Regions from separate parts of the Homo sapiens genome. Here all the other regions are linked to region 7. Evidence: fine-mapped expression QTL. A gene starts in region 7. Each other region holds a variant in brackets. All regions are shown on one strand. Distances are between the middles of the regions.

Region 1 (4,067 bases), 83 kb after region 7:
GGTAGGTTCTGGAGGACACATATTTTGATTATACTCAGGCAGGTATCATTATGGTCAGAGACCATGTCATATTCTCTTCTGCCACCCACAAAGAAAGGATGCCACAGCTAAAGTGAATTGAAAACCACTGGACTGGACCAGTGGTTATCAGCCTTTTGGAGCTAGGATTGCCCATTGTTGCCTTGGAAAAATGGTTGAGTAACTGAATAACAAACGGACCTTGAAGACCACTTGTTGTCCAGCTCTTTTCCTTTTATCCAGTCCTTGAAACATACTAGTTAACTCCAGGGAAACCAAAACCACAATTTGGGACAAACAAAAATGATACTTTTTAAAAAATATAAGAACAGCTAAAAATAAATGGACTGAAAAAATAGAACTATCAGTACACTTTGAGCTTCAGGTTTTGGAGTCTTAATCACTGGAGATCAATTAACAAAACCAGAACTAACAGACGGTACAATTGTCTGGCTAACCCCACTCCTCCCTGAAATCCAGGGATGGTGAAATCATCATCTCCTGGGGACATTTTTCAGTCTCTGTGTTGGAAAGTTTTTCCTTATTTGTCTCATTGTATCTTCAAGGAAGTGATGTGATCCCTTTCCCACCTACAGTGTCTTAGTTACCCTTCACCAACACTGCCGATTTTTTCCCTTTCAGATTAATCATCTTCAGTTTTACCCACAGTTCTTCATAACCCTGCTCACTGTCCTTCAAACTTGTTCCTCTGTCAAGAAAGGGAGGTGAAGGCCAGGTGCTATGGCCCATGCCTGTAATCCCAGTACTTTGGGAGGCCAGAGTGGGAGGATCACGTGCGGCTAGGAGTTCTAGGTTGCACTCAGTTATAATCTGCACTGCACTCCAACCTGGGCAACAGAGCAAGATTCTGTCTCTTAAAAAAAAAAAAACTATACTTAAAACATTAAAAAAATAAAATAAAAAGAAGAGGAGATGGGATGGGTATGGGGGGAATTCAGGAGTTTAGTCCTGGTCATGTTTTAGTGCCTTGAAATCAGACAGTTGGATTTATGAGAACAGAGCTCAGGGAACTCAGAGTCGGGCTGGAGATACTAATTTGAAATCCATTAGCATATTAGAGGTATTTGAAGCCCAGAAGACACATGATGTGACCTAGAGTGAGAAACATTTTAAGAAGAGAAAGGGCCCAGGTCCAGTGTTGACAGGTCATAAGGCCAAGAGGAAGGAGCCAGTAAGGGAGACTTGTTTCAGGTTTTTGCTTGTTGGTCTAATTTCTCTAAAATGTCATGACTCAAACTGGACACCCTATTCAGGAGTCATTTGACCAGGTTAGGATTGTGAGAGTTGATAATGTCTATAGTTTTCAATACCATCTTCTATTAAAGAAGTCTAAAAGTGACTTTTGACCATCACCATACACCATTAATGGTCAATGGGGAAGTCAATGGGGAAGAGATGCAGGCTTTGAGGGGCTCGACAATTTATATAATTTAAGGGCTCTTTTTTAAGAAAAATGAAACAATTATTAATATACAGTTAAGTACAGGGCCATGCCAATGAGGTACCTTGAAGTTTAAGCTTCTTTGGCTTCATGATAAATCCATTTGACTGTCAACTAAAAT[C/T]CCTGAGTCTTTTCCATGGATATTATTGTTAAGCCACATCTCCCAATCCTGTAGTTTACCCTGCTGGTTTATTGAACCTTACATTTATCCCTTTAGAATGCCATCCTGTTAGAATTGACTTAGCCACCATCATCCCAATGTCAAGAGCTTTTATAAATACCTTAATTCTGCCATTCCACATTTTGCTGTGTCTCCCATTTTCATACCATGCACAAATATGATATGCATGCCTTCGCCATTTTTATCCAAGTGAATACAGGCCAGAAAATGAGACTTGAGGCAGCCCATCATAGACCTCCCTCCAGGTTGACATTAAGCAGCACTATTTATATGGCTGGCTGGAAATCCACCTAATTCTACTATCACACTGTTCAGGGGTCCTATTAAATGTCTGGCTAAAACCCAGAGATACACTGTCTACTGTATTTCCTCATCAGCCAAGCAAGTAACCTAATCAAAAAGGAAATGTAGTTCGTAGGCCATGGTTTAGAAATTCAAATCTTGTTTCATTAATCTCATCTGCAGTAAAACCATTTATTTCTTACATCTTCCTTCCTCTTCCAGTATGCCTGCATTTAATCAGAAAAAGTAATTAACAAAAAAGATTATCTTTGTCCCAAAGCATATTCCTCCTTGTTGCATCTGTCATCCAACTTTGTAAGAACCAGGGTAGCACTCAGTGTGGTTACATCTGAAGTACCCACTCCAGGAAGATAACATGTGTTGAACTGGCCAAGTTTGGCACACAGATCAACAAACATCTACTGAGCCTGATTATGTATTGAGGAAACAAAGATAACTAAGATACAAAGATACAGAAGATATATTTCCTGCTATCAGAAATGTTTAGAGTAGTGGGTTATAATAGTTACCATTTATCATGGTGATGATTTCCCAATTTGTTCAGAAGAAGCCTCAGTTTCCAAGTCTAAGAACTAGTCACAAGCTTCCTTGCCACTGCTAACATTGTTGGATCCTCCTTATGGTTCTCATCTATTCATTGAATAAGCTTGGTCAGGTGCTGCCGTGGGCTGGCCACTCTTAAGACCCTGTCTTTGCCCTTGAGGCACTCTCTACTGTGCTTGTTGGCCCACAGGTCTGGAAAGAGGCTGTGGGGGAAAACACGGGCTTCATTCTGTTGTGTAGTTCCAAGGATGTAGGAGTTGTTCTTCCTCCTCCTCCCTCTGCCCAATTCCATCTGTCTGTTTTATGACTGAGGGCTCTGTCCAGCCCTGTCTCTGCATTCTTGTCTCATCATTCAGAATGTGCTGCTGTTTCTTCAGAGGGACCAGATTTTCCTTCTCTGGAAAGAAACCTGTCAAAGCAATGCTGGCTTTCTTTTCTGCTTTGCCTTGTACATCACGGTTGTTCATTCACCAGTGTCTCTTGGCTATCTTTCATGACCTCTGACTTCTCAGAATTCTGTGCAATCTTGTTTTGTTTTGGGGTCATTTCCTGCATTTCATAGAAATTCTCTGGATAGAGGTGAAAAGACGGAAAGTAGGAAGATATTCCTTAAGTCTTTCTACCTTCTGCTTCAACCTGGTAATTACATACTTTACATAAAAAGAGCCAGTGATTGAATGCCCCCTACTCACAGCTGGATTATACCCTTGGCTGCCACACCTCTCAGCTAGGGTGGAATTTCAAAAATTAAAATGAACTAAACTTAATTTTTAAGTTTCACTATTAAAGATACAGCAGTTATTCTAGATTTGCCCCCTAAAACATATTATAAAACATGAATAGTTTGCATGTGCTTTGTGTGAAAATTGGGATCTAGAGACTTTTAATTGTGCTATAGTGATTGTGATGAGAGTCTCTGCTAACTATTGTACAAAAAACCATATTTGATGCCCTATGTTTGCTTTGGCCAGCAAATCATTTGAGCAAAGATGCCTGTCCCCTCTACCCAAAGATGGTATTACCATTTGCTTTTTCACTTTTCTTAGCTCCCAAAAACAGGAGTTGATTCTTATCCTTTTTACAGAAAATTGTGAAGTCACAGAAAAACAGCAAAGTTTTATTATTTTGTTATTTTGCGGCCCTTTACATAAAATGTTATGCTTAGGACTAATATGCTAACAAAACAAAAATGACTATTTTACTGCAATATTGCAGTCGAATATAGGAAAACTCAGATTCTATAAATTATTCTTACACACATTCATAATAGTAGCCTCAGAATGCTGATAGTCAGGAGATAGAGGAAACTAATCTAATACTAGAAGGTAAGAGTTCAGACCTGCTGGCTCAGGGATGCCTGGACCAAATGAAACCTTGGCTTTACCCCTTGATCATTTGTCATCCAGAATACAGAGCCCTTTTCAGTCGAAACTCTGAGCTGATTTGTGAGCTTTACTGAGACGGAAAGAATATTGGAGTTGATGGCATGATTCTCCATCACTAATTTGCTAGGCTAAGACCATGAAATATATGGCCATAATATGGAGTGAGAGAGACAAG
Region 2 (4,067 bases), 93 kb after region 7:
GATTTCTCCCCTAAAACTGCAAAGTCCAGGACACCCGTTCAAGATCACAGATCTGAACAGTCCTCAATGTCTATTGAATTTGGCCAAGAATCTCCTGAGCAATCCCTTGCTATGGACTTCAGTCGACAGTCTCCAGATCACCCTACAGTGGGTGCAGGCGTGCTTCACATCACTGAAAATGGGCCAACTGAAGTGGACTACAGTCCTTCTGACATGCAGGACTCCAGTTTATCACATAAGATACCACCTATGGAGGAGCCGTCCTACACCCAAGATAATGATCTTTCTGAGCTCATCTCAGTATCTCAGGTAGAGGCCTCCCCGTCCACCTCTTCTGCTCATACCCCTTCTCAGATCGCTTCTCCTCTCCAAGAAGATACTCTATCCGATGTTGCTCCTCCCAGAGATATGTCCTTATATGCCTCACTCACCTCTGAAAAAGTGCAAAGTCTGGAAGGAGAGAAGCTCTCTCCAAAATCTGATATCTCTCCACTCACCCCACGAGAGTCCTCTCCTTTATATTCACCTACTTTTTCAGATTCTACCTCTGCAGTCAAAGAGAAAACAGCAACTTGCCACAGTTCCTCTTCTCCACCAATAGATGCAGCATCCGCAGAGCCCTATGGCTTCCGTGCCTCAGTGTTATTCGATACAATGCAACACCATCTAGCCTTGAATAGAGATTTGTCCACACCTGGCCTGGAGAAGGACAGTGGAGGGAAGACACCTGGTGACTTTAGCTATGCCTATCAAAAGCCTGAGGAAACAACCAGGTCCCCAGATGAAGAAGATTATGACTATGAGTCTTATGAGAAGACCACCCGGACCTCAGATGTGGGTGGCTATTACTATGAGAAGATAGAGAGAACCACAAAATCTCCAAGTGACAGTGGCTACTCCTATGAGACCATTGGGAAAACTACCAAGACCCCTGAAGATGGTGACTATTCCTATGAAATTATTGAGAAGACCACACGGACCCCTGAAGAGGGTGGGTACTCATATGACATAAGTGAAAAGACCACCAGCCCCCCCGAAGTGAGTGGTTACAGCTATGAAAAGACTGAGAGGTCTAGAAGGCTTCTGGATGACATCAGCAATGGCTATGATGACTCTGAGGATGGTGGCCACACACTTGGGGACCCCAGCTACTCTTATGAAACCACTGAGAAAATTACCAGTTTCCCTGAGTCTGAAGGTTATTCCTATGAGACATCTACAAAGACAACACGAACCCCTGATACTTCCACATACTGTTACGAGACTGCAGAGAAAATCACTAGAACCCCTCAGGCATCCACATATTCCTACGAGACTTCAGACCTATGCTACACTGCAGAAAAGAAGTCCCCCTCAGAAGCCCGTCAGGATGTCGATTTATGCCTCGTGTCCTCTTGTGAATACAAGCACCCCAAGACAGAGCTTTCACCCTCTTTCATTAATCCCAATCCTCTTGAGTGGTTTGCCAGTGAAGAACCCACTGAAGAATCTGAAAAGCCCCTCACTCAATCAGGGGGAGCCCCACCGCCTCCAGGAGGAAAGCAACAGGGCCGACAGTGTGATGAAACCCCTCCCACCTCAGTCAGCGAGTCAGCCCCATCCCAGACCGACTCTGATGTTCCCCCGGAGACTGAAGAGTGCCCCTCCATCACGGCCGATGCCAATATCGACTCTGAAGACGAGTCGGAAACCATCCCCACAGACAAAACTGTCACGTACAAACACATGGACCCACCTCCAGCTCCCGTGCAAGACCGCAGCCCTTCGCCACGCCACCCTGATGTGTCCATGGTGGACCCAGAGGCCTTGGCCATTGAGCAGAACCTGGGCAAAGCTCTAAAGAAAGATCTGAAAGAGAAGACCAAAACCAAAAAGCCAGGTACAAAGACCAAGTCATCTTCACCTGTCAAAAAGAGTGATGGGAAGTCTAAGCCCTTGGCAGCTTCACCAAAACCAGCGGGCTTGAAAGAATCCTCGGATAAAGTGTCCAGGGTGGCTTCTCCTAAGAAGAAAGAATCTGTGGAAAAGGCAGCAAAACCCACCACCACTCCTGAGGTCAAAGCTGCACGTGGGGAAGAGAAAGACAAGGAGACCAAGAATGCTGCCAATGCCTCTGCATCCAAGTCGGCCAAGACCGCCACTGCAGGTAGGTTGAGAAGGCTGGGCATTGGATATATGTCACAACCATTCTACTTGCGTTTACAGCCTTTATATTTCCCTGTTTGGCTTTGTACTGGGAAGATGAGGGAGCACAATTGATGCTTTACCTTCCCTGTACTCTTCTCCTCTGCCCAAAGGTATATATCTCAGTCCAGTGTGGCCTTAAGGCTTGGAAATAGCTCAGTGTATGGTTCAAAGCAGCTGTGATTC[A/G]TCACTGGGATTCCTGATTTTGTGCCGTTTTCGAACACAGCAACTACAGCCCTGTTCTAAATCTTCAGAACCAAGGATGTGTCTTTCAGGTGCTTCTGGAAGACTGGTTTCAGCCATACTGGCCTCAGAATCCAGCAGGGTAACACAGGCCAGGAGCTCCCAAAGGCCTAAGGAGAACCAGAGGTTTCACATCAAGACTGGATCAACCAGTCTAGACCCAAGATTTAGAGTCCTTTTTTAAAAAAAATTTTTTTTAAATTAAAAATGTTTACATTTTTATTTAAAACATCACCAGGTTGGAGATAAATCCTCATTAAAGGCAGTGTTCCATTTTCTTATCAGCCAAAAAATACTATAATTTCAGTTGACCAGTGAGTGTCCGGTGAAAATTGAGAGAAAAACATTGATGGCTCTGCTCTTACCCTTCTCTTACCCCATGGCCTCATTAGTAGAGACTCAATGCTATTTCAGATTAAAATTCCACTGGGAAGCTAGATGCATGGCCTCATGCCTGTAATTTCAGCACTTTGGGAGGCTGAGATGGAAGGTTAGCTTCAGCCCAGGAAGTTGAGACCAGCCTGTGCAACATAGCAAGACCCTGTCTCCACAAAAAAAAAAAAATGTTTTTTAATTAGCTGGGTGTGGTGGCACGTGCTTATAGTCTTAGCTACTTGGGAGGCTGAGGCAGGAGGATCACTTCAGCCCAAGAGATCAAGGCTGCAGTGAGCCAGAATTGTATGTATCACTGCATGCCAAGCCTGGGTGACAGAGCAAGACCCTGTCTCTCAAAAATAAATAAATAAGCAAATGAAATGCCACTTGGCAAGAGCAGGTATCCCTGATTTTTGATCATTCATGTTTTTGGTCATGATTCTCAGATTTATCAGGTTCTCAGCAATGACCTGGGCTTTTGATGGAACTGGTCTATGGCAGTACTGCTTCATTTTGTTGCTTCACATCAATCACAAGGATTGGCATTCATACATTTTATTTGCTTTAGGTAATTATTCAGAGATTTTTAGATCACAATTCACAAAGTAATGTAAATGGACCCAAACATGTAAGGCACAACATAATTTAAATAACATTGCCCTGATTTATTAGGGAAAATCTGATAGAGTAATCTTTGGAGCTCTCCAATTAAGTACACTTTAGGATACATTTGTTAAAACTGCAAATTTTTACTTTAAACAATATGGAGTATCAATTTTAAGGCTCAGTTCTCAGCACATTTGGCCTTTCTACATGCACATAGAAAATAATCGGAATTTTTTCATGTTTAAAATGAATGAAAAACCACCAGATAATTAACCCTTTCATCTGAAAGAGTTGACAACTGACCTGCACTTAGGAGAAAACATGAAATCCATTTAAACAGATAAAACCAACTGCAAATTTGCCAGAACATATACATCCTAGCCCACACAATTTTTAAAAAAACTTTTTTTGGACATTTAAAGAGGTAATTTAAAGGCAAAGTAATAAGTGAAAATGAGTTAATTTTCATTTATTTTGGAGATGCTTTTAGATGTCTAAAAAGGCAAAGTTGCAGTACTAATTGACTTTTAAAGCAAACCTGGGCAGTTCTGTCAGTTTGTGCTTCTGTGAGCAATATTCATTTGATGTTGATGGTAGTGATTTAGAGTAGAGGGCGAAATTGGCAGACATGTTTAATTACTGGAAGAACTGTAACTCAC
Region 3 (4,056 bases), 100 kb after region 7:
AGTGTCTCCAATAGCTTATGCAGTCTAGGAGCTTTCCAATACTCATTTAATTAAGATTTAATCATTTGCTAATGGAAATCTTACCACCTTTCATTTTCCCTCTGTTACCAAATTTCAGCTCTTAGGAGCTGCTCTACAATTCTGAATTTGCTTTTCTTGCCTCTCTTTAGTCACCTGTCACAGGAGGTTCCTGCTCAGTAATGATATTGTGAGTTAGGATAATAACTTTTTTTTTTTGTGCTTCAGATTTAGAAGAAAAGATCCTGTTTCCATTTGAAAGGAACTGTAAGCTTTTATCTTTTAACCAACTGAACAATACACCAAAAGCAGCCTAGGGATGAGCATTTCTTTGAAAGCAATTAGGTTATTCACCTGGTATTAAAACTATTTACTGTTAAAAAATCTGTGACTTCATGAAGTTGATTTTTAAAGGCAGCATCAAAAACTGAAAAGGAAGGGAAAAAATAGGCAGCTTCTCTGCACTTGTTTGGAGCTCCCCAAAACAGGAGCCATGGAGAAGTGGCATCAAGACCGGGCTGCCCTTTCGAGAACACCCTGTGGCAGTTCAGAGACACGCTTTTCCTACACTGCATGCAGCCCCTCTTTCCAGCACTGGAAAGAAGTGGTCTTGAGCCCAGCTGAGAAGCACTTCACACTCCTCTCTCTTGTTCTGAATGGTGTTTGTGTCAGTCTGCAGCTGTGTATGGTATTATGTCTTATAATCCTGCATCACTTCTATCCTATCCAGTCATATCTAATGTAGAAAATTAGTTTCCAGTGAAAGTAATATGTAGTGCTTTTATGATATTTGTGTGCAATATCCCCTCTTCCATTGAGGATATTTGATGTAAAGGAAAAAAAAAAACTCAGTTCCACAATAAAATACAAAAGTGGCAAAAGTTCATGTGTGTGCTGTGCTGTCTTTTGCTTTGTGTTCCTGAGTTGGGCTTTGCCACTCACGCAGAATGCTGGGCAGTCAGGGCATGACGGCAGGGGGTGACTACGTTCTTTTCAAGATGGGCTCCCTGGCTTTTGGCAAACTGCCGAAAGCATCTTGCTAATGCTTGCAACTGCTACCTCGTTAACTTTTATAGCCAAGCTCTAGAGGATGTGAGCGTGTAAGGACAGAAACTGGGAGGTGAAGGGAAGGAACAATTAAAATTATTGCTTAAAAAAAAGAAAAAAAAAAGGATAGCTGGGTGCAGTGCTACATGCCTGTGATCCCAGTACTTTGGGAGGCCAAGGTGGGAGAATCATTTGAGCCCGGAAGTTCAAGGCTGTAGTGAACCATGATTGTGCCACTGCACTCCAACCTGGGCAACAGAGAGAGACTCTGTCTCTAAAAAAAAAAAAAAAAAAAAAGAAAGAAAAGATAGACCAGACCAGAACCTGTCATATTCAGCAATTGTGCTCAGTACCTATCTTTTTCTTAGTTCCTTGCTCACTGTTACAGAATATCCTCTATCTAACATAATATGTTGTGGATTTGACTCACACCCAGGAACTAGCAGTTGTTGGGAAAAAGTGATTATATATGTAGCAAAGAATACCTAACAAGAGGAGGATTTCCTCCCTGTCATTCAAATGATTATTACACATTTACCCTGTACCTGGCAGTAGGTTATATTACAAGATATAACCTAACTGCTGCCCTAACTGATTGGGGGAAGACAGACCAGCAGAGGCAATGATACCACATCGTGATGGGGGCTCCTAAAATTCAAGAGCGAGCTTAGGTGACCATAGGAAAAGCACCGCAAATGATGTCTCGGCTGAGCTCTGGAGTGTGTGTGTGTGTGTGTGTGTGTGTGTGTGTGTGTGTGTGTGTGCATTGGTTGGACCAAAAGTAAATTCCAGGCAGAGACAAGAGCTCACACAGGGTCTCAGCAGAGAGCAGGATCAGCATATGTTAAGGAGCACAGACTGCTCACAATGGCAGCATGTAAATGGGGGAGGCCCTGGCACTTCAGTTTCCCACCATGTGGCCACAAAAAACATGCCCATAAGGTTCTTAATAGAGACCTCCAAGACTGGG[C/T]CCTGCCTGTCTGCAGAGATGGTCCTTTAGCCTCAAAAGACCCCAGCAGCCTGTCCTGAGTTATTATGATATCCCTCTGTGTGTCATATCCACTCCTTTTGATCTTAACATTTCCCCTCCAAACCATGGGGCTACATTGAATGGTCCTATCAGAAATCACTGCTTGCTAAGAGGGATTCTGAAATCCCTCCAGAAATTAAAGGGTTAAGCATGTGAGCACTCAGGGTGGGAAATCATCACTTACAGATTTTAATTTCATCTATCAGACTCAAATTAAATAGTAAATAAGTTGTTTTCTATTCCACTGCCAAATTGTTCAGTTCCAGGAAGCCTTCCTTCTGGCCTGAAGCCAGGGTGGCCAACTATCTTGGTTTGCTCAGGACTGCCCTGATTTCAGCACTGAAAGTCCTGTGTCCCAGAAAACCCCTCAGTCCCTGGGAACCAGTGAGGGCTAGTCACCCTACCTGAACCCTGCCCTGCTGTTTACATCCCCTTCTCCCCCCATCTAGGCACAATGGAGGGGGAAAAGTTGGCGGCAGCTTTCCTTCAGTTTCTTTTTTCCTATCTTCTGAGAAAATCAACAAAGGTCTGTTGAGGTCCTGTGATCATATTTTCTCTCTCTTCTTAATTGTACCGCTCATTCTGGATGATTTTCTATATCCCTACAATGCTTTTTTTAACACACTCCTGACTCATGAATTCTTGGTCCCTTGCATAATTCCAGAACTATTTCCTCTTTGATCTTGTATTGTATGCCTTGGAAATTCACCGGAGCCATATATGCAGTTTTGGTCACACCTAGTTCGTTTAATATGAGCAGTTCTTCTGGATACTTCTCCAGGGGTTACTGGCAATGTTTTCACAGATGGTGGAGCAGGGCTTCTGAGGTCTGCTTGATTCACAGGGAGATCTCGCCGTACACCAACAGACACAGCTCTATTTCATGGCTCAGATTGTCCCCACTAAAACCAGAAATGCATGCTGCTTTAATGCAGTCTCAGGAATTTAAATGCCATGTGTAAACTGATGATTTTTATAGTTATATCTGCAGCCTGTACATCATCCCTTACCTCCAAATTCATATATCCAGTGCCCATTAAAATCTCCATGTGGATATCCAATAGGAGTCTTTAAAATACCCTAAACCAAATGTAACATGTCCCCAAACAAACCCCTGATCTCCATTTGCAAACTGCTTCTCTCCTAGGCTTTTCTACCTCAGTAAATGGCAAATACATATTCTTGTTGTTCAGGCCAAAAATTTTGGCCCATCAGCAAATCAACTGGCCGGCAAGTACTGCTGGCTTGACCTTCAAAATATATCAGTCTGATACCTTCTCCTCACATTCACGGTTACTACCCTTGTCCAAGTCAATCATTTCTCTCCTGGTTTATTGCAGGAGCATCCTAATTGACCTTCCGGTTTCCTATCTTTGCCCTCCTAGCTTATTCTCCATGTTGCAGCTACAGTAGAGTAATCCTCTAAAAATGTTAAGTCAGATCATGCCACCCATGCTCAAAGCTCTTGAGTAAGTTCTCATCTTAGAGTAAAAGCCAATGTCTTTACTGATGGGCTAAGAAGGCTTACACAATTCATTCCTCCTCTACCCCTTCTCTCCGACTTCATTTCCCACTTCTTTCCACCTTACACATTCTGCTCCAGCCATACTGGCCTCCTTGCTATTCCTCAGGCATTCAGCCTTTCATCTCAAGGCCTTTATGCTATTTCCTTTGCTCAACATGCATTTTCTCCAGGTGATTCCACGGTTTTCAATCTCACCCATGTGGGTTTTTGTTCAAATGTCATTTTCTCAGGAAGGCCTTCCCTAACCACCTTATCTTAAGTTGCAATCTCCACCATTTACCTAGCACTCTCTTTTTCTCTACCTTCCTGGTCTCCATATGACTATTATTTTTGTGATCAAGGTTGGGGCAAAGCCCAGTGTGGTGGCTCACACCTGTAATCCCAGCACTTTGGGAGGCCAAGGCGGGTGGATCACTTGAGGTCAGGAGTTTGAGAC
Region 4 (4,067 bases), 28 kb after region 7:
CAGGTATTTGAAGAGTGTGTCAAAAACTTTCCAACCTTCTTTGAGTCCAGCAGAATGGTAAAGCGTGGGGGCCCAGGAGCTACAGTGGCCAAGTTCAAATATGGGCTTCACCTCATGCACAAGGTCTCTGTGCCTCAGTTTCCTTATCTATGAACCTACTTTACAGAGGATTTATGAAAATTCAGTAGCTATAAGGCATGTAAAGTGTAGAAATACATTTTTAAGAGATGTTTAAATAACAATGCTTTTACAAAATACAAAGACAGTCTTAATAATGATTAATGCTTTTAACTTGCCATTCAAGGAAATGAATAAGAAATGTTGGTAAAGCAGGAAAAGCTGATTCATCTTGACTCAGTGTTCAAACCAACTGTACCATTATAAAGTCTACAGTATTATTCAGCCATAATTGGTTCAGGATTATGGTTTCTTTGTAGCATTATCAGTTCTCTATACTTGAAGTTCCCAAGAGCCAAACATTTCCATTTTTCTTTAATCAGAATCTGTCACATTTCAAAACTCCCTTTCTTCTTTATGGATATTGTGGAAAATCCCTTCCTGCAACCTCCAGCTTCCGCCAAAAGTGTCACATGCATTCTTATTGTCACTATGTGAACACCTTATGAATGAGGGCTTTCTTTTTTAACTTTAGTTTTCACATGTTTGTGAGTGAGAGTTTTGTGTGTGTACATGTTGTCTTTTGTGACACCACAGTTTGATTTGATTGAAAAAGAAAAATGCAATTTTATTTAAATTGCTACTTGGGGATATAAACTTTGTATCAGAACATCAAGCCTGAATCCATGGTCAGTGAAGTCCTTTGATTTCTGCTCCTTTTAGTATTGTCGCAGCAAGACTCCCTCACTGCATTAGTGGGTTCCATTGTATTTCCAAGGAGGGCCCAGTGAGAAGGGCTTGCCTGCACCTCACGGCCACCTCCCTTCTTCTGCAGGGTAAGCCTTGTAATTATAGCAGACATTACATTTGTCTCCAGCTTCTAGGGGATGATGTCATTGCATGTCAAACAGGGGATTAGCATGAGGAGAGAAGTCCTATTGACATTTTCATTTTCATTAAGAAGAATTTGGTTTTGCTTCATTTTGTTAACGGAAGCTGTTGTCTTACCACATAGGAGAATTTTTTTTTTTTAAAGAAAACTTGAAAACGTAGAAGCAGGCATGTGCTGACTGCATGAATAAAAATATACTCTGTAGTGGCACTCTATCAATTAGTGAAAGCGTCTGGGACACAAAGCATGCCTGGGAAATCTCCTCCTTTTCTTACAAAAGCAGAATATCATTCTTCTCAAAGCTCACAATGGCCTGGGCCCTGCTGCAGAAAATGTTCCTGAAAAAGGAAGGCAGAGACTTGGCCACTGCTGAGTAGAAAAGGAAGGCAGGCGGCTGGTCCCATCAGACCTCTGAAATATTTTGCTTTTTCGTGATGGCATTGATCTAGTATGTCTTAAAGTCTCATTCCTTATGTCTCAGGGTAAGGCTCTTAGTTCCCTTCCCATATGAAAAAATTAATCAGGAGCGAGGTGGAATCCTGATGTTTCAGATGCTTTGAGCCCAGAGCTGAGTTGGTGGAAGAGTATAATTTTTATCAGTCATTTCCAGCCCCTCCCGCAATAGGAAGAAAATCATTGTCAGACTTGGGGTAGGG[A/G]GTTGTGGCCTCCTTTCAAGCAATCTAACAATAACCCTGAGTCAGAAAATCTAGGTTCAAATACCAGCTCTGGCTTTTACTGGGCTATGTAACTGTAGGCAGCTTATGGGATTGCTCCGAGCCTTAACTTTCTCATCTGTCCAATGGCATTAATTGGCAATAGTACTTGCATCTCAAAGGGTTATGCCTGGTACCTATCAACCATTGTTTTTCACCTCTAAAAATTATTTCCTTTCAAAACATGGGCCAGTGTTCTGAGGTGACCTTATTACTTGAGTGAGTAAAGGTGGTGGTTTTCTTTTTTTCTCTCTCTCTCTCATTTGTGTCAGTGTTTTGCAAGTACAGGTCAGGTAGCCAACTCTTACCAGTCTTGATTTCCTCCTTGTGGAGTAGACCCAGTAGCTATGAGATTGAGGGTCACCTGGATTAGACTGGCTTTGGAATTTCAGGTTTTTTGAATTTTCCCAAAGCACTGGAAGAAAAAGAGTCCTTGTGAATTTTTCTTGGGAGTTTTTAGAAACCCTTACAATAGTTCTCAGTTCTCCATATTTGGATCCCAGAATGTTCCTAGCATCTAGTTTCCCTGGAACAGAGTCATCCTGTGAAAAAGGATGAATCCAATCCAGATCAGACCCTCTTGTGAGGTGATAATTTTCCATCCAGATTTCCCTGGGACCTTTCCATTTGCATTCTTGTTTTGCCTTGAAAGGCAGCTGGTGAGCTATTTCTTTTTCCTCATTGGACTTTTCATGTCCAATTACCTAGATGATTATTGCTCCTGTAGGACTGATATTTTAGAAAGAATTTGGAATAACACTGGGTTTTGAGGTGTAGCCCAACAGGATTTGACCAGGAGTCTCCATTTACAGTTCTTCAAGGCCAGTGCATTTGGTGAGCTGGTTGGAAGGAAACTTTGGAGTGTTCTAGAAAGAACTAGACCATCTGAATCACCTGTCCTGATGCCCTTGTGTGGAATAAAGGAGAAGGCACTGCCTTGTGCTGAGTACTTAAGTGTGCTGAGCACCTAGGTACTAAGTAAAGTGCTAGTTACTGTACTAAACATACCCATGGGCATGTGCTATCCCCTGAGTTTCTCCTGAACCTATGGAATATTGCCCTCATTTCCTCTATTCCCACCCCCAGCACTCCTTGAACTATCTGACATACAGGACAGCTCTCTTACCACAAGCTACCTGAATGTAAATATAATTCAAAGGAAGGACATTACAAACAGGAAATCAGCAATTGACTATGGAAGCTGAAATTGCTGTCTGGAGATGGCCAGATACTCTTTTCCTGGGTGGCTCAAGGAGTAGTCGGGTCATCTTCCCAGGGCCTCAATTGTGTCCTCTCCAAGCTGTCAGTATGGCCCTGTCATCCAAGACTTGTCCTCATCTCTGGGTTCAGTTCTCTGGGATAATTTAAAACCTACCTCCTTCTCCCCAAGACCTCATAATCTAGATGGAAGGAAAAGGGGGACATTCTCAGTTGTTTTTCATAATCATTTTACTACTACCCTCTGTCAGATCCTGCCCCAAGTCACACCTAGCCTAATGTTTTGTACCTTGACTCAATTGTTGGCCAGCCACTCCCTTTCCCTCCAATTAGGGTGTGTCCTTGAGTTGTTTTGTATCCTCTTCTGATTATAAACTATAAACATATACATTTTGACTACTGACCCCAAGCCAAACTACAAGGAAAATATTGTCCAGAGGGTGCTAATATGGGTGCTTAAATAATATGTGAATTATTATTATTTTTTGCCAAGCCCATACCAAGATTTATTTTGTTATTAAAAATGTGTGAACTTGGTTTTGAGTATTTTACATTTGGTCATTTTGAGTTGCAGGGAGATTCTGATTTCTGCATCTTCTTCCACCCTATGGGCCAAGTGCCCTTCACTGCTACTGAAGGCTTGTTTATGGCACATGAAATTGGCTAGGTTATTAGCATGATTTGCATTTTTGTTTATGTCAGAACTGTAGGCTGAGTAATAATTCACAGTACAAAAAAGTCAGTTCAGTTTATTCATAAGGATGGCTTATGACAAAGCAGCAATTCCATTTTTATCTTCCTAGGCATGTCAGACCATTTGCTGATAGATCCTGTAGACTGGTGTTGACCTCCACATATATGAGTGAATTCAATGACCTATTGGCCCTATTGCTATAGTCAATCATCTTGACAGCCTAAATTTCTGTAGAACCTTGAGTGTATTATTTTCTTAGACTAGTCTACAAGGGATGATAGGCAATAAATATGTTCCATGACTATTGTTTTATGTAAGCCACAAATTAAATCATATTTTCTAGTTGAATTACATAAAAAGCTTATGATCTTTAACTGCTGAGATCCATCTTCATTCAGAATTAAATGGCAGGAGCTTCCCTTAATTTACCTGG
Region 5 (4,067 bases), 140 kb after region 7:
GAATTTACTAGCCCTGTTCTAGGTGACGTAAAATTATGTAATCTAATTCCTTTACTTTATAGAGGAGGAATCTTGATGTATATAGTGAGATAAAATGATTTCCCCAAGATAGTTAGCAATAGGACCTAAATTAGACCCCTCACTTTCATTATTCCACCATTGCCTCTCAACTTATTTGTAGGACATCTTTAAAAAACATTTTTGTGGTTTCACAAAGGTCTCTAACAGCGAAAAATAAACATCTCTTCTAAATTTAGGAGCAGAATCAACAGAAAAATAAACTCAGTGTAAAACAGTTCTGGAATTGCCCTGAACTAGCTGTTTAACTTTGGAAAGTCACTTGATCCTTCAGGGTTTCAGTTCCTGCAACTGTAAAATGAAGAGGTACGGTTATCTGGATCACAAACTCAACTGTCTACAGGGGCCAGTCAGTTAATATAAATGCATGAATCATGTAAGACAATAGGTACAAAGCTGCTTGTATTACAATCAAGCAAAGTGATTTCATTATACTGTTTATAAAAACACAGCTTACGGGCCAAACAAAATACACTTGAACTCTGGACTAGACCAGACCCCCGGAACTCCTTCCAGCACTTAAGTTTAATGACTGTAAAAGACAATAAGCCTATATCTACTCATTAAAACATCAGTCATATACAAGTTTCTATTAAACCAGAAAAATGGCAGTGATACAAACAAGTGAATAAAGACTCAAAGATAAACGAGCAACCATTCAGTCCACAGCTGATTTTACTTTATTCCACTAGCCTCCATTCCCCCACCATATGGTACCCACTTTGGGCAGGCAACAGAGATTATTATTATGGGAATGGTGGGCCCTGCAAATTGGCATCTAAAATTTCAAGGTGAAATGATAAAATCAGCTAAAGTTAAATTTAAGGTCCCTAAAGTACATTATAACTGAAGATCAAGTTTTATAGAAAATAAAATTTTCAGCAATTGATCACTCCATTAGTAAAGCATTTTATTTTCTACTCAAATATTTCAGTGCAATTCATCTTATATCTAAGAAAGTCATCCAAAGTAATTTTCCTACATAATATAAATTATTGTTTTATATACTGTTACTTTATCAAACCTCTGTTATCTGGCAATTCCTATAGCAGAAATGGTTGAACTCTAAAAAAAGGGGAGTAGGATAGGGTGGGCATAGAGATATTAAGAAATTACTTGACAGTTTTTGGAACATAATGACTATTTGTAGTTTAAAAAGGAAAGATATTTAAAAATTGAGACTTATTATTTGTGAGTCCAATTGGTTTTTAGAAAGGTTTACTTTACCACTCACCAAACAAACAAAAACCCTTAGTTGTTTACATGTAAAGACAGAAAAATTAAGGTGACCTTTCTTTCTTCTGCTGCCAAATAGTAAAACTCAGTATGACTATAATACATTTAATAGGCAGCTCCTCTATTTAGCTCAAGCTAGTCTCTCATACCAAAAACCAAATTTTTAAAAACTGAATATTTGAAATTATACAAACAAAATATGCTAAGAAAATTCTTAACAATGACCAAATGCAAACTTCATGTCATAGGAAGGTTAAGTACCAGAGGCAATTCCTTTTAATAGGATGACAATCATAAGAAGGAACAGTTACAATTCTGAATATGAAAGAGCTGTTTCTTTAGTAATAAACCAAATACAAAGTTCCGGGTTCATCTGTTCTGGCTGGCAAATCTTGCATAAAAAAGCCATACTTTAGCTAAACAAAAGCTTTTAGGCTGGCCCAGAAAGAGGGAATGAACAATTTGAAAAACATCTTTTACTGCCTGAGAAAATTTAAAAAGTGTCTGAAAGTGCCAGGAGACCTGCCTCAATGTGACTCAGGCAGCTTTCCAAAGTCCCTCAGCTTTCCTAAGTATGAGTCATAGGGGAAGGAGAGAGGGCTCCTTGGCAAAGATACAGGTTTTCCTCTCTGGTTCCACCCCCACCATTTTCATTTAAAAAAAAAAAAAAAAAAAAAAAAAGCTTTGATGTATAATAG[TTAAA/T]TAGATTCCAGACAGGCTTAACTGAAGAAGTTTGAACACCAGGGAGGCAAAATATCATTGCAGAAGTTGCTATTGTTTGCTATTGTGATCCACAGACACAGGGAGCATCTTCTGCATCCTAAAAAGGGCTCGGCCCATTGATCATGTGTCAGATCATGGCTGCACTTTGTGGGAGAGAAGAGGATAACAAGCTATGAAAATACCTCTGCCTCCCTAGTTTCTTAAACACCACAAGCTCATATACTGAACAATTACACTGAGTTCGAAGGGGTGGGAGCTTGTCCTTTATGAGTGCACATTAAGCAGAATTTCAAGTGTGGTAGCAAGTAGACTGTCCACATATACATGGCTGCTACAATGAATGCAGCCTTTAGTGAACAGATACACTTTTTCCTTCAATAATCTTAGGCAAAAAAGTAAGAAAGCTGGGATTTTTTAAGCATGAATAAGGCAAAACTGAATGTTAAACTGCAGAGAGAATAGTTCTACTTCTATACCTATATGAAATTACTTATTACAACAGAATGGAGCATTTGATGAGGTCAAAGCTCCTCTCTTCTGCATTTGATCATTTATCAACCTACTATGAATCAGGATATTATGCTGGGCACTAAGAGACAAAGAAGAATAAACATCTCCTTGCCTTCAATAAGGTTAGATTGGGATGATCAAAAACAAGTATTTTCAGCCCCGCGTGGTGGCTCACGCCTGTAATCCTGGCACTGTGGGAGGCCGAGGCGGGCAGGTCACTTGAGGTCAGGAGTTCAAGACCAGCCTGGCCAAAATGGTGAAACCCCGTCTCTACTAAAAAATACAAAAATTAGCCTGGCGCAGCAGCACGTGCCTGTAATCCCAGCTACTTGGGAGGCTGAGGCAGGAGAATCACTTGAACCCGGGAGGCAGAGGTTGCAGTGAGCCAAGATGGCGCCACTGCACTCCAGCCTGGGCGACAGAGCAAGACTCCATCTCAAAAAAACAAAAACAGGCTGGGCGCAGTGGTTCACGCCTGTAATCCCAGCACTTTGGGAGGCCGAGGCGGGTGGATCACGAGGTCAGGAGACAGAGACCATCCTGGCTAACACGGTGAAACCCCGTCTCTACTAAAACAATACAAAGAAATTAGCCGAGTGTGGTGGCAGCTGCCTGTAGTCCCAGCTACTTGGGAGGCTGAGGCAGGAGAATGGAGTGAACCTGGGAGGCGGAGCTTGCAGTAAGCTGAGATCACGCCACTGCACTCCAGCCTGGGCGACAGAACGAGACTCCATCTCAAAAACAAAAAACAAAAAAACAAAAATAACAAAAAAACTCCAAGTATTTTTTGAGCATTGATAACAAGTTTAGAAGGTTAATTTATAAGCATCATAGGTAATTTCCCATGTATATAACACTGATTATTTCATAACACCCTGATAATAAATTTTGAAAAACTGGCTCTCAATAGGAAAATAAATCCAACTTTTCTCTCTTCTTCCCAATAGTCTGTCTTTTTTGTTTCCTTGGGTATATTTAAGAAATAAAAATGTTAGAGATAATGTTGTACCCTGCTTCTCTCACTTTCTAGAACAAGAAAGTTGGTGTCCATCATTCTCATGTTATACTTTTACTACTTAGGGATATGTTCTGTGTTGAGTTTTTCAAGGTGCATGACTTTTTGACTCTGCATTCAAGGGCCTGTCTGATAGAGAACTGAACCAAACCACAGTAATGCTGCTTCTCCAGGGGCAGAAGAGTAGGGAAAGAAGTGACAAAATTACTGTTATCACAGACATGAGAGAGGACTCGATGCCACTTTCACTGTGAAAACTAATTGCACTGCCACCAGGTAAATCTCTGACAAAGTGCTGCTCTGTGTTTGATTAGAACCCAGCCCCGACTCACTAACTGAGTCATTTAACCTAAGAATCAGTTTTATCATTTTTAAAATAGAGATGATAATACCTTAATCACTGGGTTATTATGAAAATCACATAGGAGCTATTTAGGCATTTTGCCGGCTTATAATTCTTTTTGGAACCAAACACAGTAAAAATATGCACATATACAAGCAATAC
Region 6 (4,067 bases), 220 kb after region 7:
ACACCCAACAATAGAAACCTGCTCCTAACCACTTCACTGGACTGCCTTTCTGTAAATAAATAGCAACTTTTATTGTTACCTTGTTACTGCAGCTCACAGAACTCTGTTAGTGCGTGATTCTTCGGCCACGCTTGGTCCGTTTTATCTCATGCACAGCCAAGGATCCTAAAGAAAGGATGATGTTTCCCAAATCTACTAAGCTGTGATCAATGATTTCCATGTATCTCAAATGTATTTTGAGTCCACATCTGAGAGGCCTTAACCCCCTCATTTCACAGAGGACAAAACTGGGAGTTCCAGTGGTCATGCTGCAGCTTTTTCCACTACACTGTGCTTCTCCCTGGATAAACCAAAACTAAATATGCCTGTTTTGCATTTAAATGTTATTAGTTTTTTTTTTAAATGCCCTTGATACCCTTAACCGATGGCAAATGCCCATTTGTACTTCAAATCCCAACTTCCTGTCAACCAGTCCCCACACAGGTTTATCACTAGCTACGGTTAATCACTAGCTTCTTTCACACACACAAATAAAACCTGTTTTGCTGAGGATTTGCATTCTCTGGTAGTTCAGAAATTGTTTTTCCCAGGATTTATATTTGTACAGTTTGTACAGTTATATTTGTACCTGTCTAATGGATTATCTATAATAGATGTTAGAGGTAATCCAGCTCTATTCATGTTATTTGCTAACTTCTAAAACAGTCAAAATGACTTTACTTTTTTCTTTCTCTGATTTTTAGCTAAAAGATACCTACTTACAGATAATGTGGTGAAATTAAAAGAATTTCAACAAAAGAAAGTGGCTGTTGCATGTAATCTTTCTGGCACTAAAGGTAATAGAATCTATTTTGTTAATTCTGTCATTTATCTGTCATTTAAGTTTCTCTGTCTTTATCCCTATTCAGTGTCTCCTTCAGTGACTTTATTATGCCTTAGAAAAAGTTGAGACCATTTATTGTTAGTTTCATAGTGAACTCTTATATTTATCTTGCATTTCATACTTTGCTGCTACAACGTCTACAGCTCTCCTCTTATTCCTTCTCTTACGATCCCAGAGAAGTATTAAAGCTAGTGCTGCGATTGGTCTTGTCTAAATCTGTGCCATTAAAAGTGAGGTTTGAGGACCAGCGGCATCAGCATCTATTGGGTGGTTGATAGAAGTGCAGAGAGAAAGGCCCCAGATCATTCATATGCACAATAAAGTTTAAAAACTTCAGATGATTGGCTTTCAAACTTTTTGATGTAACCTTCAGTGAAAAATGCATTTTATGTTGCATCTCAGTACACACAAACATATCTATATATAAATGAAATCAAATGAAACAAAACAGTACTATGTGTGATGATACATTTGGTATTTTTCACTCTGTGCTAGAAAAGTCAGTAGGATCAAAAATTTCTTAAAAAACAAGAGAAACCTGACTACCAAACCTAGGATTTGGCTGGGCATGATGGCTCATGCCTGTAACTCCAGCACTTTGGGAGGCCAAGGCAGGAGGATTGCTTGAGCCAGGGAGTTTGAGATCAGCCTGAGCAGCGTAGACCTCATCTCTACAAATTTTTTTAAAGTTAGTTGGGCGTGGTGGTGCATGCCTGTAGTCACAGCTACTCCAGGGACTGAGGTGGGAGGATTGCTTGAGCCTGGGAGGTCTAAGGTGCAGTAAGCCATGATCACACCACTGCACTCCAACCTGTGTAACAGAGTGAGACCCTGTCTCAAAAAAAAGATAAATCTGGGATTTGCTTTGAAAAAAAATCCAGTGTGTTTGAGGATTGTAGTGTAGAGGAAACATAATTAGCAAAATATTGATAATGATTGAGGCTGGGTAATGGCACTTAGTGAGGGGGATTATTATCCTGTTCTTTCATTTCTTGGGTATGTTTGAAAATTTTTGTTATAAAAAGCTACAAACAAGAACACCACCCTAGGTCTTTTTCCCTTTCAGCACCTGAAAAATCTTGTGCATTCATTCTCTCCCTCCTGCACATAGAGTTCTTCCCAGCATTTCATACCTTTTATTGTGTGTGGATGCAGCAGTGGTCCCTGGGGGTTGTGGATATACCTCCTTGATCCTCCTTTATGAACACATCTAAGACTTTCCTTTTTTTTTTAATAACTCTTGGTGTCCCTACTGACTTTTTCAACCATAGACCCAGCTCTCCTTCCTCTCACTGCCAGATGTTTGTGAGCTCCTGATTAACACATTAACATTCTCTTTGTTTTGGTTTGTTTTTTAAGAGACAGTCTC[GC/G]TCTGTCACCTAGGCTGGAGTGCAGTTGGCACCATCATAGCTCGCTGCAGCCTCAAACTCTTGGATTCAAGCAATCCTGCTTTAGCCTCCTGAGTAACTAGGACTACAGTGCCACCATACCGCCTAATTTTTAATTTTTAATTTTTTTTTGTAGAGATGGTCTCACTGTGTTGAGGCTGGTCTCGAACTCCCAGGCTCAAGCTAGTATCCCGCCTCAGTCTCCTAAAGTACAAGCGTGAGCCACTGCACCCATCCTGATACTTTCTGCCTCCATTCCCTCACAATTCAGTCCTCCAGAAATCAATGTTCTCTCGCTGCTCCGCTAATCATACTGTTATATAATACCATATAGGGGGCAAAAAAATAAACCTTTGGAATGGGGGGAATATATTTATCCCCAGTTGAGTAGGCTCAATCTAGATTTCACTTCAGTCTTTTCTTTCTACCCAGGTATTTTAGATCTATGTGAGGTTTGCAGTTAGGGCTTCATGTCATCCAGTTGTGATTTCCAGTTGTCATAGTCTTCATAAGTCTGTGGCAGTTGTGTACATGTTCTGAAAGGCAATTAATATAATCAGTGCCAATCTGCTCTATTGTCAGACTGATATGTTTAAAGTCCTGTCAACCTTTCATCATTTTGAGAGCCCACAGTGGTACTCTGTTGTATACCACACTATTAACATACTCATCTCTCTGGCATCCTGGCTCTCCCGTGATGGACTCCGCCCTTTCTAGGACGGTTTCTGGTTGATCTAGTCACAGCTTTTCCCTCCACACCTGTCATTCCCAGTTCTGTTCTGTTGCTCATGCTGATTTCCTTACCTAGAATATCCCCCTCCTCCATTTCTCCAACCTGATTTCAGCCCTTTCCTTTCTCACTGGTACCCCTCCACTTTCACCAACCTGGTCTGTTCTGAGTCATAATAGTAAAGGTTGTAACAGGACTCTTCTGTCCACTCTGAGTTGTAATAGGTGTCGTAACAGGACAGAAGAGTCTTATTATGTTTATAGTATTCATGTGTCACCTCCTCCATCATTGTTTTCAGGTAGCTTTGTATAAATTTAGCTTGCCCTCCCCAAAATGCTTTTAAGTTCTTTGAGGGCAGGAACTATTCCTTACGCTTCTTGGTGTCTCACACACAAAGAAGGATACTTCCGAGTATGATTATATGATAAACAAATGTTGATTGATTTGTTTTAAAACACAAGTTATATCTGTTGAAATACTGGATTCTTAAGGTGTTGTTTTTTTTTTTTCTGAGACAGAGTCTTGCTCTGTCACCTAGGCTGGAGTACAGTGGCATGATCTCGGCTCATTGCAACCTCTGCCTCCCAGGTTCAAGCAATTCTTGTGCCTCAGCCTCCCTAGTAGCTGGGATTACAGGCGTGCACCACCACACCTGGCTACTTTTTGTATTTTTGGTAGAGACGGGGTTTCACCATGGTGGCGAGGCTGGTTTCAAACTACTGACCTCAAGTGATCCACCCACCTTGGCCTCCCAAAGTGCTGGGATTACAGGCCTGAGCCACTGCACCCGGCCTCTTAAGGTTTATTAAGGAGGATTAAGGAGTACAAGATGTAACGTCATCTCTTTGATGACTTGAGACTTTTTAGACTGGAAGTTGCTTAGAAATATTTAATAGACTAAATCCTCTTAGATCTAACAGGTGACACAAGGAATGAAAATGAGAACAATAATGTTTCTATTTACTGGCAGTTACCGAATGACAAATGCTTTACATATATCATCTCAGGTAACCCTGTGAGGAAGGTACCACGATCCTTAATTTACACATGAGGAATCAAGTCTCAG
Region 7 (4,067 bases):
TTTATACAGCAACATAGAATTGCATTTAAAAATAAATTTAAGTAAAAGAAATAAACTGCATAAAAGAAAACTATTACATACATAAAAGTAACAATGGTTCAAAGAAAGGAAAACCAAACACAAACTAGATGAGGCTGGAATCCAACGGATGACCTTTAGAAAACAGTGCTCTTCACCATATTTCCTGCCCCTCACCCCAGTTATGGGCTTTGGTGCTGGCCTTACTTCTTGAACAGCAATTGAATATCTTAACCAAAATATTATCTGGAAACACTTCATCTAGTTACTGGTGAATGCAGCTAGTTGGAAACACTTCATCTAATTACTGGTGAATGCAACTCTCTAGTGATCCTGTCACAGATCCCAAATACTGCGGGCCAGACGGTATTTTCATTCTGCATTGATCAGATTGACATGTTGGATGGAACCCCCCAGCCCTTGGCTGCCCAGCATGTCTCCCATGCCAGGGTGTCAGGAAAGATATAAGAGCAAAGAGTACATGACCAATAAGTCATGGCAGCTAACACCTAAGACACTGGGTTATTTTGGAAATCTTAAGAATATCTAGGTGATTATCTATCTATCTATCTATCTATCTATCTATCTATCTATCTATCATCTATATTTTACTAACAGGCATTCTAGTATTAAAGCTATGTTGACTAATTTCCATCTATTCCTCTTCCTTAAAGCTCGAATTCCCCAGTCTTCTATGATACCATGTTTGCACATTTTGCTCTTTCCTCACCCTCCTCCCCTTTTCTGGGACAGAAGCTATATTCAGTATGTTTGTGAGAAACGGTTGTAAATAGGCTGCCTTAAAAAAAAAAACAAAAAAACAAAAACAAAAAACACATTTTTTAGTTCTTCTAAACACAAACAAAGGCAATAAAAATTCCCAATGCTACAGGTATTTTAAAAGACATCATTGTCACGAGGTAATTTTGCTTGTGTGTTCCCCAAGGAACTGAAAAGTACATTATAGTCACTGTAACCCTGCTGAGTAGAGACAGTATCTTCTCTTTATTCTTTGTTATTACTGATACTATCTGTTCAGCACATTAAGGAAAGAAATTGGTATCTAATATAATACATCTGCATTTCTCTCATTTCCCATGAGCACCACAAAGCCAGTACTTTTTCATCCTTGGCCCTGCCAGAGTAGAATCCAAGGCCTGAACAATAGTAGGCTTAAGTTTTGCATTTTTGATGTATTCTTTAAGTGAAGGTGGTAAATATTGATATTGGTAAATATCAGTAAATTCGTCTTCTTAAAGCCACAAGGTCAAAGAAAAGACAGGTTCCGTCTTCCTAGGCGGGGTACCCACAGCCCCGCATCTGCCCACTGTGGCTATCCCAGTTCCTGAGAACCTGGCTACATCATACACAGCACACAAGGCAGAGGCCTGACTAGTGCAACTCCAACAAGAGAAAAGACCCCCACTCCGAAAATGGAAACTCATCCCATTCCCATGCACAGACAGGGTGAGGGTGAGGAGTGGGCAGTGGGTGTGTACGTGGTGGGTGGTGTAGGTTGAGAGCGTCTTCCCCCTTCACGGCTGCAGCAGGAGCTCAGCGGGCGCCCCAGCCCCTTGGCTCGCGGCCCTGCCCCGACCATTGTCCGCACACCTCGTCCCTCCAGCTTCCGGGCCGCGGGCGAGATGATTTGCTGCAGATGACATCAGCCCCGGGCCAACGGCTGGAAGAGCGGAGGCAGCCACCGCGTGAGGATGTGCCGGGTGGTCCTTTCCTCCTCCTCTTCCTCCTCCTCCCGGCTCCCTGCCTAGTCTCCATATAAAAGCGGCGCCGCCTCCCCGCCCTCTCTCACTCCCCGCTCCTCTCCGCCGCGCACTCTCCGCGGCGCTGGGAGAGGGCGGAGGGGGAGGCGGCGCGCGGCGCCAGAGGAGGGGGGACGCAGGGGGCGGAGCGGAGACAGTACCTTCGGAGATAATCCTTTCTCCTGCCGCAGTGGAGAGGAGCGGCCGGAGCGAGACACTTCGCCGAGGCACAGCAGCCGGCAGGATGGCGACCGTGGTGGTGGAAGCCACCGAGCCGGAGCCGTCCGGCAGCATCGCCAACCCGGCGGCGTCCACCTCGCCTAGCCTGTCGCACCGCTTCCTTGACAGCAAGTTCTACTTGCTGGTGGTCGTCGGCGAGATCGTGACCGAGGAGCACCTGCGGCGTGCCATCGGCAACATCGAGCTCGGTAAGTGGCCCCGCGCCCCCAGAGACGCGCGCTGGGAGACGCGCAAACACGACCCCACCCAGGGCGCGACGGTCACTGCGCTCCTCCCGCGCGCCCCGCACCCATGCCTCTCCTCGTCACCTCTCATACTTGGTCCAGACCCTTTCTGGGCTAATTAAGAATAATCCGAATTATTAGATATGAGACCCAGAGGGAGAGTCTCCAATAACCTTGAGGGATCTGTCACCACGCTGAGTCCGCAGCCTGTGCTGAGTTGGCCACCGCCTCTCCCGCTAAGTGAAATGCAGGTGTCAGGGGAGCAGAGGCCACAATAAAGCCGCAACCGCAGGAGGCAGAAGGGTGGGGGAGACCTGATGCAACCACTCCTTTCAGTCCTCTTCTGGCCTCAGGAAAAGGCTGGGACCCCCACCACCGCAGACCTGGGGCCGAAGCCCATGTGCCAGGGCCCGCGTGGGATTCATCCTCACCACGGCTACCTCAGCCCCTGAGAAACGCCTTTTCTGATTTCAAACCTCCCGATCCTTTCTTTCCTCAGAATGACTAGGCTAGTCCTAGGGCCACGCCCGCTCCCCCCGCCCCCCCCTCCCCGGGGAGATGCTGGGATGCAGAACCGCCTGCGCTTCGCCACCAGACAGAGCCCGCCTCGCTACCGCCCTTGGGGCCTTGGCTGCAGCTCTCAGAAAGGACAATGGGACCCCAAGTTGCGGGGTGGGGCTGCTGCTTTTAGAAGTCCCAGCCTCGGGAGTGGTAGCTTGAAGGGGGTCGGTGAGGGAGACGTCAGCGGGTAGGGTCAGCTCCTCGCCCGGTGCTCGCACCAGTGGCGCGCTCTGCGGAGGCCGAATAGCGGTACGCCGGGGACCCTGGGCGGGGCCGTGAGGGTCCGGCGGGCACAGCCTCGGGCGCACAGAGAGACCGCCCCCAGCCCCACCCGAGCTGCCGCAGTGCCTCCGGACCGCCCGCCACACCTGCCCCCCCACACTGCGGCGCCCCCGTCGGGCACGGCTGGCTGGGCTTGCGCTCCGCCCGGGCCTCGGGCTGGCGGGGGCCGCGCGCCCCCACCTCTCAGTTTGCCTGGCTTTGTTGCCCTGGGAGTCCCTGGGTGGGCAGCTCTGGTCTCTGCCTTTCCCTTTATCCCTGGCGTCCCGGCCCTCCCCTCGCTCCTGACAGAGGTCGCCGGGTCCCTCCGCAGCCCCAGCCCGCGCTCTATTCTCCTGGGGTGGTGCTGAAGCGTTTCTCCGGGAGACACCGGTTGGTGGGCGTGGTGCAGTCCGCACTGCGGTCTCTACGGCAGCCCGAGGCGGACAAAGGGCGTTCACGCAGCCCTCGTTCCCCACTCCCCCTCCCCAATAAAAGACGAAAGAAAAACCTTGTTTTAGATGAAAAAATAAATGCTTGTCATCTGCCTCTGCAGTTGGAAACGGCCACTTGTCCCCAGAACAAAAGGCTGCAGGGTGGGGACTGGAGTTGCAGACCTGGTTCTTTTGTTTAACTTTAAAGCACTTGATTTTCCCTTTTAGCTTAAAAAAAAAAAAGAAAAAAAATGTGAGCAGAAAGTCATAGTATTTTATTCCAAAAAATTCAAGAACAAGAGATATTTCAGTAGTGAAATGTCTTATTTGAGCATCTCAATAACCCTTCATTTTCAGACTATATAGGCCTTTGGTCTAATCTGTTCTAATTTAGTTTATTTGCACAATTTTCTCCTGGAAAAATTTTACACATACTGACTTTGGGTGTGGCTATTGTGGGAATCAATGACTTTGGATTTTTTTCTTTAAAAAATTATTTGTAAGTAGCATTTCTGGGAAATAGGAATATATTAGGAGGTGCTTTTCTATCTACAAAATCTTCATAACCATTC

Direction of the effects. Positions count from the first base shown, and alleles are read on the strand shown. Sizes are in standard deviations (SD) of each study's normalised expression. Not every link is listed here.
For the expression in breast of the gene that starts at base 1,966 in region 7, C is the low allele of the variant in region 1 and T is the other (small effect, 0.36 SD a copy in GTEx).
For the expression in transverse colon of the gene that starts at base 1,966 in region 7, allele A in region 2 goes with a lower level than allele G (small effect, 0.19 SD a copy in GTEx).
For the expression in tibial artery of the gene that starts at base 1,966 in region 7, C is the low allele of the variant in region 3 and T is the other (large effect, 0.76 SD a copy in GTEx).
As copies of TTAAA replace T in region 5, the expression in prostate of the gene that starts at base 1,966 in region 7 goes down (small effect, 0.19 SD a copy in GTEx).

The links. PIP is the estimated chance that this variant, and not a neighbour inherited with it, causes the effect.
Region 1: its variant is fine-mapped to the expression of MAP1B in breast (GTEx, PIP 0.97).
Region 2: its variant is fine-mapped to the expression of MAP1B in transverse colon (GTEx, PIP 0.98). The same link has a PIP of 0.9 or more in coronary artery, nasal epithelium and prefrontal cortex.
Region 3: its variant is fine-mapped to the expression of MAP1B in tibial artery (GTEx, PIP above 0.99). The same link has a PIP of 0.9 or more in anterior cingulate cortex, aorta, atrial appendage, cerebellar hemisphere, cerebellum and cerebral cortex.
Region 4: its variant is fine-mapped to the expression of MAP1B in whole blood (INTERVAL, PIP 0.98).
Region 5: its variant is fine-mapped to the expression of MAP1B in prostate (GTEx, PIP 0.98).
Region 6: its variant is fine-mapped to the expression of MAP1B in tibial artery (GTEx, PIP 0.93).

What each region holds. Positions count from the first base shown.
Region 1 is chr5:72,188,800-72,192,866 of GRCh38, forward strand. The region is part of intron 4 of MAP1B (microtubule associated protein 1B); the gene reads left to right. Among named protein-coding and RNA genes, the nearest start is that of MIR4803, 21 kb to the left of the region's middle. The variant C/T (reference allele first, on the strand shown) is at 1,602.
Region 2 is chr5:72,198,222-72,202,288 of GRCh38, forward strand. MAP1B (microtubule associated protein 1B) reads left to right here. Exons shown (of 7, transcript NM_005909.5): 5 at 1-2,146. Among named protein-coding and RNA genes, the nearest start is that of MIR4803, 31 kb to the left of the region's middle. The variant A/G (reference allele first, on the strand shown) is at 2,371.
Region 3 is chr5:72,208,667-72,212,722 of GRCh38, forward strand. It overlaps MAP1B (microtubule associated protein 1B), which reads left to right. Exons shown (of 7, transcript NM_005909.5): 7 at 1-899. Among named protein-coding and RNA genes, the nearest start is that of MIR4803, 41 kb to the left of the region's middle. The variant C/T (reference allele first, on the strand shown) is at 2,036.
Region 4 is chr5:72,133,441-72,137,507 of GRCh38, forward strand. All of the region lies in intron 2 of MAP1B (microtubule associated protein 1B), which reads left to right. Among named protein-coding and RNA genes, the nearest start is that of MAP1B, 28 kb to the left of the region's middle. The variant A/G (reference allele first, on the strand shown) is at 1,666.
Region 5 is chr5:72,246,700-72,250,766 of GRCh38, forward strand. The region is part of intron 4 of MRPS27 (mitochondrial ribosomal protein S27); the gene reads right to left. Among named protein-coding and RNA genes, the nearest start is that of MRPS27, 72 kb to the right of the region's middle. The variant TTAAA/T (reference allele first, on the strand shown) is at 2,013.
Region 6 is chr5:72,321,429-72,325,495 of GRCh38, forward strand. PTCD2 (pentatricopeptide repeat domain 2) reads left to right here. Exons shown (of 10, transcript NM_024754.5): 2 at 744-836. Among named protein-coding and RNA genes, the nearest start is that of PTCD2, 3.1 kb to the left of the region's middle. The variant GC/G (reference allele first, on the strand shown) is at 2,253.
Region 7 is chr5:72,105,510-72,109,576 of GRCh38, forward strand. MAP1B (microtubule associated protein 1B) reads left to right here and starts at 1,966. Exons shown (of 7, transcript NM_005909.5): 1 at 1,966-2,206. The coding sequence starts at 2,023. LOC105379028 (a long non-coding RNA gene) reads right to left here. Exons shown (of 3, transcript XR_007058813.1): 1 at 3,266-4,067; 2 at 2,416-2,478. RefSeq lists enhancers at 1,885-2,867, 3,273-3,567.